2 separate regions of the Homo sapiens genome follow, and region 1 is linked to region 2. A link means that fine-mapping ties the variant in region 2 to the expression of a gene that starts in the linked region. Tissue or cell type: whole blood. Region 2 holds a variant in brackets; the other region holds the start of a gene. All regions are shown on one strand. Distances are from middle to middle.

Evidence for each region. PIP is the estimated chance that this variant, and not a neighbour inherited with it, causes the effect.
Region 1: it holds the start of P2RY12, and the variant in region 2 is fine-mapped to the expression of P2RY12 in whole blood (INTERVAL, PIP above 0.99).

Annotation. Positions count from the first base shown.
Region 1 is chr3:151,380,761-151,388,870 of GRCh38, forward strand. P2RY12 (purinergic receptor P2Y12) reads right to left here and starts at 3,993. Exons shown (of 3, transcript NM_022788.5): 1 at 3,932-3,993. It overlaps MED12L (mediator complex subunit 12L), which reads left to right. Exons shown (of 45, transcript NM_001393769.1): 33 at 1,896-1,985; 34 at 3,019-3,128; 35 at 3,323-3,458; 36 at 4,270-4,431; 37 at 7,050-7,412.
Region 2 is chr3:151,345,738-151,353,847 of GRCh38, forward strand. It overlaps MED12L (mediator complex subunit 12L), which reads left to right. Exons shown (of 45, transcript NM_001393769.1): 17 at 4,322-4,469. The region is part of intron 1 of P2RY12 (purinergic receptor P2Y12); the gene reads right to left. Among named protein-coding and RNA genes, the nearest start is that of P2RY13, 20 kb to the left of the region's middle. The variant C/CTT (reference allele first, on the strand shown) is at 4,115.

The DNA.
Region 1 (8,110 bases), 35 kb after region 2:
AAAATTTTATATATTGCATATAACTTTGAACTATCTGCCCGTCTCCTAACTCTGCCTCATAGGAGAGGACCTGGAGCAATCTATGCTGCAGTAGGCATGGCAGTGAGTCCAGCTCCTCAAGCTTGGATGCCACATTATCAGGCACGCTTTCAGCTTGAAATCTGTAGGTTCAGAAACTCAGTTGTATTGATGCCAACCAAGTACACAAGAAATAAATCAGAAGGCATGTTGGTTTATTTAGAAATAATTTGGACATTGCCTTTTCACCAAACACAGTTCTCCTGGTCACTGTTTGAGGCTCTTGCATCTATGTACTATAAGGAAACTGAGCATTCACAACAGAAATTGGAGAGCATGGAATTAAGCAAAGTGGATAGATTGGTCTTATGAGGTGTTTTATCCTGATACACAGCCTAATTGACCCCTTCTTGTGGCACTGTGTTTCTATGACACCATGTCTTTCCCTCGAATGGTACTAGATGGACATGGACAAGGACACTTAATCTTATTTGATCCTCTTGTCATTTCTCACCTTTTGGGTAGGAGAGATCTAGATATAGCAATCATAGTGAACCTTTTTAAATGGAAGTCACATATTACCTCAGTATACCTAGTATAAAAAATTCGGGCTGATAAGGCCAGACATGATTTGACACTGGCTCTCTCTCCTACCTTGTCTCCTACCAGTCATGGCCCTCTTTCCTCCATGGTTGTTGCACTGGCCATGTTACTGTTCTTGAACTTGCTGAGCAAATTCTCATTTCAGTGCCTGTGCATCTTTTCTTCCCTTTAGGTGGAAAGATTCCCTTCCAGAGATTAGCATGGCCTGCTCCCTTCATTCAGTTCTCTGTTAAGATGTTACCTCCTTCGGGAGGCCTTTGATCACCTCTAAAAATAGGACCACAGCCATTCTGTATGCCATTGCCATGCCTCAAACCACTTGTTACACTTAGTTTTATTTGTCCCACTACTATTATTTGAGCTCCATGAGAGCTTGTTGTTTAGTTAACTACCTTGCCCCCTTAAGCCAGCCTTAGGGAGGGGTTCATTTCTTCTGATGAGATTTGGGAAGTGCTTTCCTCTCACCTTGCAGGGTACTTACAGGTCATCTGTTGGGATGGAGTACTTCTGCATGTGACTCATTTGAACTCTTTTAAGATGACTCTCATTAATGACCATATTTCAGAGCATGATAGGGTTTTTGTTAGTGGTTTTTTGTTTTTGTTTTGAATTGCACTTTTTTTTTGCTCATCTCATCTGATTTTAGGGTGTTGCCCACTTGTGGCTCCCTTTCCTAAGCAAATTTTTCCTTTTCCAGCATTAGTGTGAGTCAGTGAGGAAGTGAAGAAGCAGCCCACTTTATAAACTGATAAAGCCACTTGGCTGATGTCTGCAATGCCATATTTTTCAAAGTACCGTGCGTTCTCTTTATCAAGGAAGACACATACATAAGATAGCAGACCTTCTCTTCTATAAAACATCAAAATAATACATTTGCTAGGGTTCAGCAAGTCCCTAGAAATATAACAGGACTGAGGCAAAATGTAATTCTCTCTCTCCAGTGTTTTTCTTCGTAAGATCAATGAGGTAATGTATTTTAAAAGTTTTTATTAATGCTTAATTTGATGGCCCTCTCAAGCATTTTCCCAGACTTAATCATAGGCTAGCTATATAATTATATAAGATTTTCTTCCTCCACCTAGAACGGCAAATGCACAAATAAATAGCCAGATTTCTTTCTGCATGGAGGAAGAAGAAAGCTAAAATTTTATTTAGCTTTGTTTGTTAATTTGTTAAAGATAAGAAGTGGTTTTTTGCTATCAGTATAAAGCTCAATTTATCTTTAAATGAGAGAAAAATTAAACTTTAATGGGGAGTTTTTTTCCGGATCTTAGATTTTAAGTAACTGGAGAGAAGAACGATACCAAGATGACATAAAAGCGCGGCAGATGATGCACGAAGCATTGCAACTCCGCCTAAATTTGGTAAGTGACATTTCTAGTATTTTCCCTCCATTAAACATATTTACATGTGAAAATACCTCCAGCTTTCCACTTCTCCTAAGTGCAAAGTCTGCATTACAAGGTGAGGCCTTCCACTCTTTGCTCTCTGTAATTACTTCCCTGTTTCTAAAGCCTTCTGTTTCCCTTGCTGCTTTCCTTCCTGTCTGGTCAGACATCTAGACAGTGCTAGGTATTTTAAGCATAGATTTGCCTTCTCTACCTCTACCCCAGTGAATCTCTCCTTCTCTTCAGTTTGTGCTAAGAATAAATCTGAGAAGACTGTTATAAGTGTTAGCTTCTACTATACTTACTTAAAACCATTTAAAAAGTCTTTTAACTCAAAGTTTTGTCCAACTTTCCATCAAATTGATTATAAAGACAAATCCCACAGAGAAGTTTTATAGAAATTTAAAATGTCTCACATATTGTGCATTCCTTGAGTTTTCTTTTCCCATCAGGCAGGCCCAAGTGCAGGCCCCTCTGGAGGATGGCCTGCCTGATACTTTTGCAGTTGTTTCTAACCTTGTCCCAACACGTGAACTGGTAGGTGTGCGGGCCAAGCCTCCTGCCCACCACTGCTGTGATAGTGGATGTTTCCATATGGTATTATGATAGCAGGCTTAGATTCAATAGTAATTGTACAGCAAACACAAAGATGCAGATAATTGGATTACATGACTTTGACATTATTCAGGTTTAATTCAACTATAATTGCATCATAAAACTGGACATCATAAAAGATTTGGAACAAAAGAAAGCTAAGTTTATTGGTGCCCACATTCAGATACTCACGTCCCTTCTTCATTTTAGTTAATGTTTGAATGACTGAACTGTGCTGAAAGAACTAAAAATAGTGATAAACATGTAGGTAAAAGAGAAAAGATAAGGTAATCTATAAACTAGAGCATCCCTTGTTTTTTTAAATAAAAAACAATCAAAATTTGATAACATAAAGCAATGGGGTGTTCTTTCTGTTTTACAGAATGCAAATATCTTACTGTATTTTGTCTGCTAGGTAGGAGGAATGTTTGACACGGTGCAGAGGAGCACCCAGTGGACTACAGACTGGGCCCTGCTACTCCTTCAGATCATTACTTCAGGAACTGTTGACATGCACACTAACAAGTATGTTTTTATCACTTCACATTGATTTTGCTACATGTATGCATGGTATAAGCTTTGATATACTGATGGCGATTTCTGCCACATCTTATTTACTTGGATGCTATTAAAAATTCTGTGCCTTGAATAAAAATACTCAGTTAAATAAGTGTATTTCAGTTTCACTTTAAGATGAAAATAATTATTTTCTTTCTTAGTGAATTATTCACAACAGTTCTTGACATGCTGGGTGTTTTAATCAATGGAACGTTAGCCTCTGACCTATCAAATGCATCCCCTGGGGGATCTGAAGAGAACAAGCGTGCATACATGAATTTAGTAAAGAAACTGAAAGTAAGTTTGAGATCAGCCTGTATTATGAGCTCAAGTTGTTTATGGATTTATTATCTAGTGCATTTTAATTTATTACTCATTAAATGTTATTAATTGTATTCAACTTAATTTAATGTGATTATTTGCTATTTGTTTCACCTAACCTTATTAGTACCCAGAAGTTACATGCACATAACCTTGATTATTTTTTATTGAAAACAATTACATTATAAAACATGTTTAATTTTTTAAAGAACTTTAGAAATCCACTGTTAAATATATAACCAGAATACTAACATTAGATAGATTTAGGATAACTCTATGCTTGGACTGGCACGTGTAATTGAAAAAATAGCCATCTGCATTGAAATTTATAAATCGATTCATTTGACCGACCACTAACAGACTCCTTTAAAAAAAAATTGTAAGAAAACAGTGCAAAAAAGAAACCAAATAAATCTGATGCATTACCAATCAAATAAATCAATGGTTACCTTGTAATCTGACCCTGGACATGAGAAAGTGTTCTGTTCTGCAGCTCCTGTCTTCTGATTGTGATCACTACCCTGGATTTTTGTCATTTCAGCACTATGATGTTTGTTGTGTAACAACAGTGCCTTTGTATGTGTTCTATTTTCTACTTAAATAGAAGAAATGAAACACTCATTGCTCTATTTGGAACTGCCTTGTAGAACATGTTCAGGGTTAAAGAACATGCGCTAAGCTATAAAAAGGGAAATGTTTCATAGGGGAACTTCCTTCTGGTTAACTTTTGCCTTCATTGTAATTTCTGTCCCACTTCTCACTCTCTCTCTCTCTCTTTTTTCTTTAGAAAGAGCTAGGAGACAAGCGATCAGAAAGTATTGACAAAGTTCGACAGTTACTACCTTTGCCGAAACAGACATGTGATGTCATCACTTGTGAACCTATGGGTTCCTTGATTGACACAAAAGGAAACAAAATTGCTGGATTTGACTCTATAGATAAAAAACAGGCAAGAGTGAATGTTTTTTCTTATATATAAATTTATTTACAAAAGATGAAATACTTTTTTTTGTCTTACCATAGGATATATAAAATATATTAATTTTGCTGTTGATGTTTTTAAGGCATATGCTTGTCTTCTAAGTGTACTTAGTCATTGGCATTATCATATAAAGAGGTCATATCTTTGAAGATCTACGTTTTATATGTTTAAAGGACTTAAAATGTTTCCCTGAATTTAAGTAAATTTTTGGAAACCTACCAAGAGAAAACTAAGTAAAAGCTTAGTGTAAAAAAAAAATTGCATAAATAAGTTCTGATTATACTTCAGATTTAGAAGCAGAATATATTTATCAATGAAAAATTTCTTGTAAGCTGAGCATGGTGGCACATGTCTTTAGTTCCAGCTACTTGGGAGGCTGAGGCAGGAGGATTGCTTGAAGCCAGGAGTTTAAGGCTGCAATGTGCTAGGCTCATGCCTGTGAATAGCCACTACACCCTAGCCTGGGCAACAAAGTGAGACCCTGTCTCTGGGGGGGGAAAAAAAAAAAAAAACCTTCCTGTAGTAAGCTATTTCAAATAAAAATTATTTTAATTGTTAGGATATTCTCTATTCCTATCAAGCAGTATTTAATGGACATTTGTTTTATATAAGATATTAAAGATGGTTCTCTAAAATATGAGAAAATTGGTCAGTTACTCTTTTAATGAACAGTAAGCAACCACCGACATTCCACAATCACCAAGATGAAAGACAGAGTTCCTACCCTCAAGGGGGAAGTAGACAGACAATTACAGTGTAATGAGATTTGTGTGACATGGTACAGAGAGAGTATTAGGGGATAGAATAGAGGGTCCCCAGGAAAATTGACACGAGTCATTTTGAAGGATTAAGAGTTAGCTGGGAGGTAGGGAAAATTGTGGTACAAATAAAGGGAGAGTTTATATGAAGACATGAAAGAATCAGATTTACCAGGGAATTTAGAGTAGCCTGAGAATCTAATACCAGTTTGTGTAAAGAAAAAAAGCTAAAGTCATGGTCAAGTTTGAGTTTGCAGTGTCAGCGGACTTCCTGGTAGTAAGACATCTGGAATCCATTTGGATGTGTGGTTTTTACACCAAGGAAAAAGTTCTCATCTCAAGACAAATATTAGGAAACAGTCAATTTACAGGTGGCAATTGAACCTTGGTTTTATTTTGTTTTACTTTGTTTATTTATATTTTTTGAGATGGAATCTCGCTCTGTCGCCCAGGCTGGAGTGCAGTAGTGCGATCTTTGCTCACTGCAACCTCTGTCTCTCGGGTTCAAACGATTCTCCTGTCTCAGCCTCCTGAGTACCTGGGATTACAGACATGCACCACCAGGCCCAGCTAATTTTTTTTTGTTTTTGTCTTTGTTTTTTTTTTTTTTTCAAGACAGAGTCTTGCTCTGTCACCCAGGCTGGAGTGCAGTGGCGTGATCTCGGCTCACTGCAACCTCCACCTCCCGGGTTCAAGCAATTCTCTGCCTCAGCCTCCTGAGTAGCTGAGATTACAGGTGCCTGCCATCATGCCTGGCTAATTTTTGTATTTTTAGTGGAGACGGAGTTTCACCATCTTGGCCAGGCTGGTCTTGAACTCCTGACCTCGTGATCCACCTGCCTCAGCCTCCCAAATTGCTGAGATTACAGGTGTGAGCCACCACACCTAGCCTTTTTTTGTATTCTTAGTAGAGACGGGGTTTCACCATGTTGGCCAGGCTGGTCTCAAAGTCCTTACCTCAGGTGATCCCACCCGCCTCAGCCTCACCAAGTGTTGGGATTACAGACACGAGCCACTGTGCCTGGCCTGAACCTTAGTTTTAGATGAAGCTACTCATAAAAGAATGCATATAGATAACAACAGTAACACTTACATCTTAGGGAATGACTGAGTAGTTATTTGGGGGCCATTTAAGGAAAAATATTTTTAAATTGACATTTTAAGGCAAGTGCCAAGAGATGTCACCAATTAATGTTAAGAATAAAAAGAGGGTAACCGTTTTTTTTTTTCTAGAGTCAGTAAATATAAGCTTGAGTTGAAAGACTTTACTTATTCCTGCTGCTACAATTTAATTCTCTAATAATAATATTATATTCAGAGTATGGCTTATTAAGTACAGGGCCCACATATTGAACCAAGTTCATGCAGATTTGGATTGAAGTTAATACTAACCCAATTACAGGTTGACTATAACTTGACTCTTAAATTTGATATTATCTTCAAAATTATAAATAGATTACAGAGATTTAGAACTGGTTATAATTTAGTAAGATTAACTTTGCAGTGTTAGAATTTTTAGCAACAAATTTTTAGAATTTTTTTAGCAAAAAGAGGAAATACACATTAACAATAAAATATGCTAGACTGCCTCTGTTGCCTAAACAGAGCATCATGTGGTTAAAGAACTGTAGAACCGGGCTTACAAAGGTCTGAATTCTAGCCACTGCTCTCCGGTGATGTAGCTGTGTAACCCTCTCTGCTGTATTCTCGGGTTCTCTAGGGCTCATGCCAGCCAAAGTGTTCTCTGACTCCATGTCCCATACAAGCCTGGCCTATGAATAAGGAAAAGATCTGAGTGTGCTATCTTAGAGCGCTATTTTCCCACAGGGTCTCCAGGTCTCTACGAAGCAGAAGGTGTCCCCGTGGGACTTGTTTGAGGGTCAGAAGAACCCAGCTCCTTTGTCCTGGGCCTGGTTTGGGACAGTCCGAGTGGACCGAAGAGTGATCAAGTACGAGGAGCAGCATCACCTCCTGCTGTATCACACACACCCCATGCCCAAGCCCCGCAGTTACTACCTCCAGCCACTGCCCCTGCCTCCTGAGGAGGAAGAGGAAGAGCCCACATCTCCAGTTTCTCAGGAACCAGAAAGGAAGTCCGCTGAGCTGTCAGATCAGGGAAAAACCACAACAGATGAAGAAAAGAAAACAAAAGGAAGGAAGCGCAAGACGAAATCTAGCTCAAGAGTTGATGTAAGTGGGGAAAGGAAGGAGAACCTTGGCTCATTAGCATTTAGTATGAGATTTACTCGTGCCCAAATCATATCCCTCGAAACATTACCAAGAGCAGGATAAGTTTTGTTATGACAGTTCTCCTAACAGGTTTCTGCATTAACTGAATGGCACACAATGACTTGTCACAGACAAAAGATTAAAGCTTTTGATTTTCCGTCCTCCACTTTTAATAATTTTATTTTAATTGTAGGCTTCCATTGTAATATTTAATTAATATTTCAGTGCCTCCTAATTTCCTCGGGTTTGAAACTTGAAATTTTTAGAACTATACAATCCCATTCTCTCACATATTTTTAATATGTCTAAAATATTTATTGTATTTTAAGTGGTTGATATCTTCAGTAAATTAACATAAAAAGCTCTATTTGGTTTTTCTTTGATAAAACTTGGAGTTAGCATAGCCAATAGGATGTTCCTGAGATTTTATGTTTTACTATTCCATCTTACCCTCATATATTTTCCTTCTTTACCATGTTTTCAGACTTTATAAAAGATGAAAATAAGCCTAATTTAAAATAGTTTTACTTCTTGTTTCTCTATTAGTGTTCCCCACGTATAATAATCTTTTCATTACAACAGAAATCTATTTGATGGTGATTTAGAAATAATTTTATAAACCTTGAGAAGTAATGCATAAAATGTTTTTCTATTTAAAT
Region 2 (8,110 bases):
GAACTCATGACCTCAGGTGATCCTCCACCTCAGCCTCCCAAAGTGCTGGGATTATAGATGTGAGCCACCATGCCCAGCCTACATTTTCTACTTGTATGAAAAACTGATGTAAACAAATCTTGTAGGCTCTTGAAAAATAGTAGCTTCTAAAATGCCTCTGCCTGTCCTATTTGAAGACTACTGTAGTAACACCTAGCATGAGTTCCCTGAAAATATTAATGCTAAGAAAGGAATACTGTCTTTACACCCCTTATAGAGGTTGAGCAGTGATTCTTTTCCAGCTCACTACGTGCTGCTTTTGCTTTCAGTTTTATCCCTGCATTCTCAACTCATGACTTTGTTCCTTGGCCCAACTCCCTGAGCATATCAAGGCCAAGGAATGATTTGAGCTTCTTAAGTGTCTTCTTCACCTCAAAATGTCTTTTTATTTTCACTAATTTTCTTTTTTTCCCGATGGTCAAGTAGAAAGATGTTCCTTTCTTTCTTTCCATATTAATCCAGCTAAGAGGCCATTGTCTCTTATATCCTTTATCATCAGTTATCTGTTCCCCAATCTTGATTTCTACTATGGAAATTTGTTTATTTGAAAGATAGGTCTGAAACAAGAGTCTTTTGATGATCTTCATAACGCTCTTTCCTCTCAAGCTGTTGTTCTTCATGCCCAACTCCTGGTAAATGTGGGTCACTTCCCTATCTTCACCATTTCATCATCACCTCTTACTTTAACCGCTTGTTTCTTAGCTTTGTGCCCTGCCACTTAGAGAAACTTCTTCTCCTTTGAGGTTCACACATGGTTTGTCAGTAAACAAGAAGTCACATCCATTGTGACTTCTTAACCTCACTGGACGTTGTCAGTGACACTCTTTCTTATGTATCCCCTCCCCTGACTTGTGTGACCCTGAATTATAGTATCTTGTTAATTAAGGAGCATGTATGTGCACCATTTGCTGGCTTATTTCTCCCCTCACCATCTCAGCTCTCTTAGCCCTTCTTCCCTAAACATAATGTGAAGGTTTTGCACCCCTCCCAGGACTTGACATACTGCCCTTATTCCTGAGCTGTCACCTCTGTGTTAGGGCCCATATCAAACCAATTACTGGACATTTACACATTTCTACCTACCCTTCAAATTCCTTGCAATTACATGTAAATTCAAAAGTTCCCTGCTGTTATAATGTATTAATTTTTTATACATTGTAAATAGATTAATAATAATTACTTGGTAATATAAACAATACTATTTATTAGTATACATTATAAATAATTTTAACTAGTGGATACATCTTGAAGTCCAGTGAGATGCACATTTACTCCTTGGGTTCAAAAGCCTGATCCTTTCCTAACTTCTTAGATACCTCTTCATTTTGCTTCTTAGTCTTCATTCCCACCACTAAAACTTAGTTCACCCTACAAACTTTTTTACTCTAGCTTTGTCTCTCACATCTCCCCTTCATTTTTCTCAACACTTAATCATCAGGTAAAGTTTCCTACAAAACTAATTTTTCTCCTTATCTTCACCTCTGCCCTATTCCTTTAGCTATATATTTGTTCATTAGTCTGCTTATTTTGTATTTAGTATGTTCAACAAATATTAGATGCTAATTCATTGCCTATTAAGGAGATTATAAAAATGAACAAAACAGACATGGAGTCTTCCACAAAATTTACACACTAATGAGGAAGACAGACATTAAACAAATACCTAGAAAATAAGTGAATTATACTGTAATAAATGCTCCAAAGTCTACTTCCCCTCCTTCTGTGGGGAGGTTTTCAATAAACTGGAGTGACAGAGTGAGGGAACTGACACTGTATTTGTACATAGCATTTCAGCAAGTGAAATCGTGGCTATGAGAGTATTTTAGGTGTAAGGACGAGCAACAGCAAAGGGAGGAAGTGCCCTGGAGTCTTGGTGAAATGTTGAGTAAGGCAGTTCGGTGTGGGTGTGGGGGATGTGCAGAGGAGGAGGGGAAGTCTAGCATGTGAATTAACAGTAGTGAACACTGTCCATTATACTTCGAAGCATTTTACACGCTTTATCCCAGGTTTTCTCACAAAAACCTTACAAGGAAGCGATGTTACCCCATTTTTCAGAGGAAGAATTAGAGGTTTAGAAAGGTTTATTATTCGAGATCATGGACTTGGCAAGTGGCACAACCAGTATGCAGTCACAGCTCTCTTACCCCAAGCTTGGGCTATTATCAGTAAATTTGGAGCCATAGTGATCCTGTGCGATGTGAGGAGCACGTGGCTCTTTCTAGGATGCTTTCCTTCACCACCCCTCTTTGGACTTCTAGGTCTGTAAATACTACTTTGATGACATTGAATCTGTGCTCCTTGAAGACAGGAATCATTCATCCTTGTATTTTTTCAGGGCTCCTAGCATTTTGTCTTGCCTCAAATAGATATTCTATAAACAGTTACTGAATAACTATGCTACAGTCATCAGCCTTCACATGGACATTTACATTAGGACCATCTGATATGCCTTAACTGAAAACAATTGCCAAAGCATGTGACTGGCACTGCCTTCATTTTTCATAATTTTATTAGTGCCCCCCTGTTTCCTTCCTAGGGTTCATATGTACACAAACCACCAGACCAAAAAAAAAAAAAAAAAAAAAAAGAAAAAAGAAATATATCAGTAATTCTCTGTAGCAACAACGAAAATGGGAAATTAGCAAGCAGCTCAGCTCATTCAGATGCGCAGCCAGCTCTAGGGATCACTGCTTATGTCATTTGTATCCTATGATTAGGAATATCTTTTGAAAATTTGGGAGAGGTACTCAGGATATTAAATAAGAACAGCTTCTAAGAGAAACTCGCTCCTAGCTTCTTTTTTTTTTTTTTGGAGGCAAATTTGAACACCTGAAACATTAAGAATCATTTGGGGGTGGGGAATAGATAGATTGGCAGGGCATATAAATGTTTATTTCTTGTAATGTATAATAAAAAAGGAACCAGTGCAATGGGAAGCAGTGGCAAGTGTGTCCCTGAGAAAGACAGACCGACACAAAGACTGAGAGCCAAGTAACAGAATTGGAGAGAGAAAAACAGGCGCTTAGTTTAACGCTACAGAAGCAATATGCTACTTTGTGCAGAGTACACATGTGAAGTACTCCAGGTCAAACATTGGACTTCTCCTAGTCTGAGGTTTTTGTTCTTTGTTGCTGCCACTGCTAATTAGGAACACAGTGCAGTTTGTTTTCTCTGTGAGGAATTCTTTTCTCATATAAGCTCCTTAGGATAAGATGGATGCTGTTGGGAAGGGTAAGTGCTTGCCATGGGCAAAAATATACATAGAGTAAGAAAAGGAGGTTTACCAAAGGATAGATTTGGACATTTTCTAAGAAAATGGAAGATTATAAGATCCAAGAGAGAAATTGCTATAGAAAGATTCAGAGCCAGGCACAAGAGAGGGCACATCTTGGACTCTGTTACTTTGGCTGAGGAATGTGTTCAGTGGTGTGCATATGCTTTCGTTATGCTGTGACTAAATTTCTTTCCCACGTGGGGAAAAAAATGGTGCTTGGATTCACTGTGCCTATGGGGTGGTGGTGGAGAGGTGGTCCAGAAGGGAAGAGTGGTGATGTCAGAACATGTTTGCATTTTCAGCTGTTTGCCTCACACCTAATGACACCTACACGCTTTATTGTTTTGTCTTTTGGAAATAAATATACATGTATCTCACACAGTCATGTTGGAAATAAATGGAATATATATAGTTTTGTAGAGATGAAGTCTTGCTCTTTTCCAGGCTGGTCTTGAGCTCCTGTCCTCAAGAGATCCTCCCACCTTGGCCTCCCAAAGCACTGGGATTACAGACAGGAGCCACTGCACCCTGTCCAGGAATATTTTTTATAAAGGTGTTTGAGGATCCTAGCAAGATATTTTTCCCTAAATGTAAATATTTACTATTGCTATATATAAAACCAGGCTTATGAAGAGATAACATTTTCCTTAAGGGAAAAATATGACTAGACAATATGTTACATGATGTGAAATTAATACCATGTTCAATTTTAAACAATGAAAAGTTTTTCAATAGCCAAAACTTACTTTGTAGGGTACGCCCACATCAAGTGCTTCTATTAAGACTTCAGGTCAGTTGACA[C/CTT]TTTTTTTTTTTTTTTTATAATGTTAGCAAGTTCCAAACTGGAAAAACAAGGGTGTTGCCAGTGGAGGTTGAGGTGAATTGAAGGGAGGGCGGGATGCCACCACCGCAAGCCAGCATGGAGGTGCTGTGGTCAGTGCATTTCAGGGATATGAAATGCAACCCCACCCCTGCAGACAAGAGTTTCAGAATGCATTTTCTGTTTTTCAGGATGAATCTTCAAGTCATGAATGTAACCAGCGCACAATCCTTCTCTATGGAGTCGGCAAAGAGCGTGATGAAGCAAGGCATCAGCTGAAGAAGATTACCAAAGATATCCTGAAAATTCTAAATAAGAAGAGCACCACAGAGACAGGGGGTAAAGAACCTTAATGCATTTGCTCCCATTGTGTTGCCTTTTGCCTTCCCTCTGAGCACAGTCTTTATCAAAGTGTTCTATGTCACTGTCAACAGAGCGTTTCCCCTCCTGAATGACTCTCACATTGAAATGTGAACAAGCACATTTAAATTTTAAAGCCTTGTTTCCATTTATAGCAACCCTTGTATTAAAATATTAATACAAGGTATTAATATTAAATATTATTTTATTAAAATATTGTATTCCATAGGTAGGTGTAGGTAATTTATTCTGATTTTTGGTATACTTCTCAAATTTTCTATAGTAGTAATAAATGAAGTACTGAAGAATGAGTTGAAAACCTTTAGTCTGGAAGAGATCCATTTCTCTGTTTCTTTACCATAATTTTCCAAGCTTGTGGTTAGTTTTTTTTCTGGGGCACTCACATTTGCATGTTAATTGAAAATCATGACAGCATATTTGCTCACCTTTTCTTGCATTATTGAGAAAAATGATTGCAGTAGGTAGTGATGGCTACCTATATCTCCAAATGATTTCAAATAAAAGAATTTGATCTTTGCTCTATAATGTCTTCTTTAGTTGAAATGCTCTTTCCTCATCCTTTTGACATAGTTTTTACAGTGAAGCTGTGCCTTTATGTTGTATCACCACATTGCATAATTGGAATTTTGTAATTATCCACTTCACGTTTGCCTAATTATTCTTTTCAAGGTTTGTTTATTTCATTAGGCAATCAAATTATTTTAAATATATAATTAGGTATCCTGCTACCACCACTGGTGTTTATTTCTCTAATACTTAAATCATAGAAGGAAAAAGAAAGTTTGTGTTTACTCTATGTAAACAACATTCTTCCTGCACGTGGTATAAACCACCTCTAGGAGCCCTACTGTTCTGTAGTACATATACTTTTTTATGGACTCTTCACAGGAGATCCAGTTCCTAGACTTTAGCAGGATAAATTGCTAGAATTTGTCCACCCTAGATCTTTACTAGAGAAAAATACAGATCTTAATAATGAAGATAGGTTCTCTTTCTTCCCGGTCAATCATGGTGCACATGCAGAAACATGGTACAAGAGGCAGTGTGTTTCTATCTGCATATGGCATTCTGGGTATCTGATGTCAGAGGTGATAGTCCTCAGAACACAGTGGGAAAGTTATCCTTCCTGTTATTCACATCACCTTCCCTAACTCCCTTCCATTCCCAGTTAAGGGCTTTGAAATACCTCAGCTCTCTGAGGAAGCAACCAAGAGTTGTGGAAGGGAAATGAAACCTTCTTGTTGATGTGTCATTATTGAGTTTGAAAAAAGAAAGTGCTCTGTCTAAGAAAACTGTTTATCTGTTGTTTTGGTGTTTTCTCTGTCTTAGAGAAAAGAGGAAACAGTTGCATTTAGAAGATTGAATTTAGAAGCCCTGAAACTAGCTAGCAAAGAATATTTAAAACTACTTTTGGTATACTTGGCAATGGGGTAGGGGGGAGTCAGTATTTCCTTCAGGAGGTTCGTAATACATATTTTATCTAAATTATTTTTAGAGGGTCTTTCCAGAGCCTATGGAACTTTTTAGAAGGCTTGAGGGGTATGGGAAGGGGAAGGAAGCAATGTGGTATCCTTTTCTGTTGAGCGTACTAACTTCCTTCACAGCTTTTTAATGCCACACTATAGTTTGTCCTGTCTTTGTAGCAGTCCCTCAAATAGGCAATTCTAGCATATGAACTCACAAAGCGAAAAACATTGTTGTTCTGTGCTGCCTTTTGAGAAACAGGTGAGGTATTCCTTATACGAAGTGCTTGGGACCAGAAGGGTTTTGGATTTTGGATAGTTTCACATTTTTGAATATTTGCATATATAATGAGAAATCTTGGGGATGAGACCCAAGTCTAAACATGAAACTCATTTATGTTTCATATACACTTTATATACATACCCTGAAGGTAATTTTATTTTTCTCTTGGGGATGCTTAATAAACTGTGTTGTGTGTCTACATTTTGACTGTGACCTGTTATGTGAGATCAAGTGTGGAATTTTCTACTTGTGACATTATGTCTGCACTCAAAGTTTCATATTTTGGAGAATTTCAGATTTTGGATTCTCAGAATAGGGATCCTCAACCTTTTTCAGTAAATAGAAACATCATCTGTGGAACCACATCGTTGGGAGGGGATTTTTGACTTTCTTTCATTTTAGATAAAGTTCCTTAACCAGAAAGCTGTTAATTTGGGATGTAGTGAGCTGCTGTATTGTAAATAATCTTAATTTTAAGTCACTAGTTAAAACTTAGTGTAAGCACCAGAAATTAGCTAACTGTACTTCATATTAATGGAAATATGCCCACTTTTTTCAGCAACATGAGTACTGGTAAGGAAAACAGACCTTGTGTTAGCATGTATTTGATTTCTGGGAACACATGAAAATAATATTTTGAGGAACCAACTCATTTAGGAGTGTTGTCAGATCAGCCAGGTCTTGCCTAGGGGAATTTATAGTATAAAGTTTAAATAACATTTCCAGTTGAATGATCAAAGTTCATTTTTCATTTGCCTTGACCAGTTATCTTTTTTGGTTGTCAATGGTGTATCTTTTGAAAATATTAGTGAAGTTTACTATGACAACCTTTAAGAGGCTAAAGTTTCAGGACTTAAAGATTTTTAAAAAAGAAAATCAAAATTAAGCAACAAAAGAGCAATAATATGTTATAAAAGCAAATTAACATAAGAAAGATGAGGAAAAATATATATTGACTATAATGTTACTCATGTAAATATCATTAAAATAAAGTATTTCGTTGAGAATCACCACTGATTTCTTACATTTTGCTGTTAAAATGAGTATAAATTGCTAAGAACCAATTACATTCTTTTACATGAAGTTTTAAGAAGTTAGTGATACATAGATAAATGGAGTCCATTAACACAAACAAATAAAAAGGTGCACTTGGGAGTTTTTAGTAGGATCTACTTCTTTAAGTCTGTTGTTATTATTTGTTTTGTCCCAGGAAGAACTGAATCAATGCATTAATTTCACTTTTAAGGCATTTTGTGCACAAGACTATTGATGTTAGCTCTTCAGCCTTGGATCAAAGATGTTAGTAAATGAAAAATTCAAAACTTGGTTATTTTAAACATGCTCATGACATGTGAGCAGCTACAGTGAAGGCAAAATTTCATACATAATTTGTACTTTTGAGAATAGACATTGAAAAAATAAGCAGGTTTAATGAATTTGTTAGTTCCTAATCTTTGCATTATATTTGGTGTTACTGGCCAAAAGTGGCACAAGCTTGTAACTTATGTTACCCCAGCACCTTTAAATTCTGATGTACTCTAGCATCAAGGTTTCTTTGTTAGGGAATTAGAAAAGAACCAGCCTTGTGGTGTTTTGTTTTATTTTGTTTTTGACTGTAACCACTAATTGCTTATTGTTGAAAGAGAAGTCTCTTTTATTTTCATGTTATTGTTTAAGACCATTACATTTGCCATTAGCAAAATATTTTTGAGTTCAGTGAAATCTTGTTCATTTCTTGTGTCTTTAATAGAGAAATCTGTAAAGTAACCTTTGTTCTCTGAAATTAAACTTTCCTAAAGAAGACGACAGTGTGAGGAGTAGAACTCTTGTCTTGGTAGCCTTTAACTACTTAG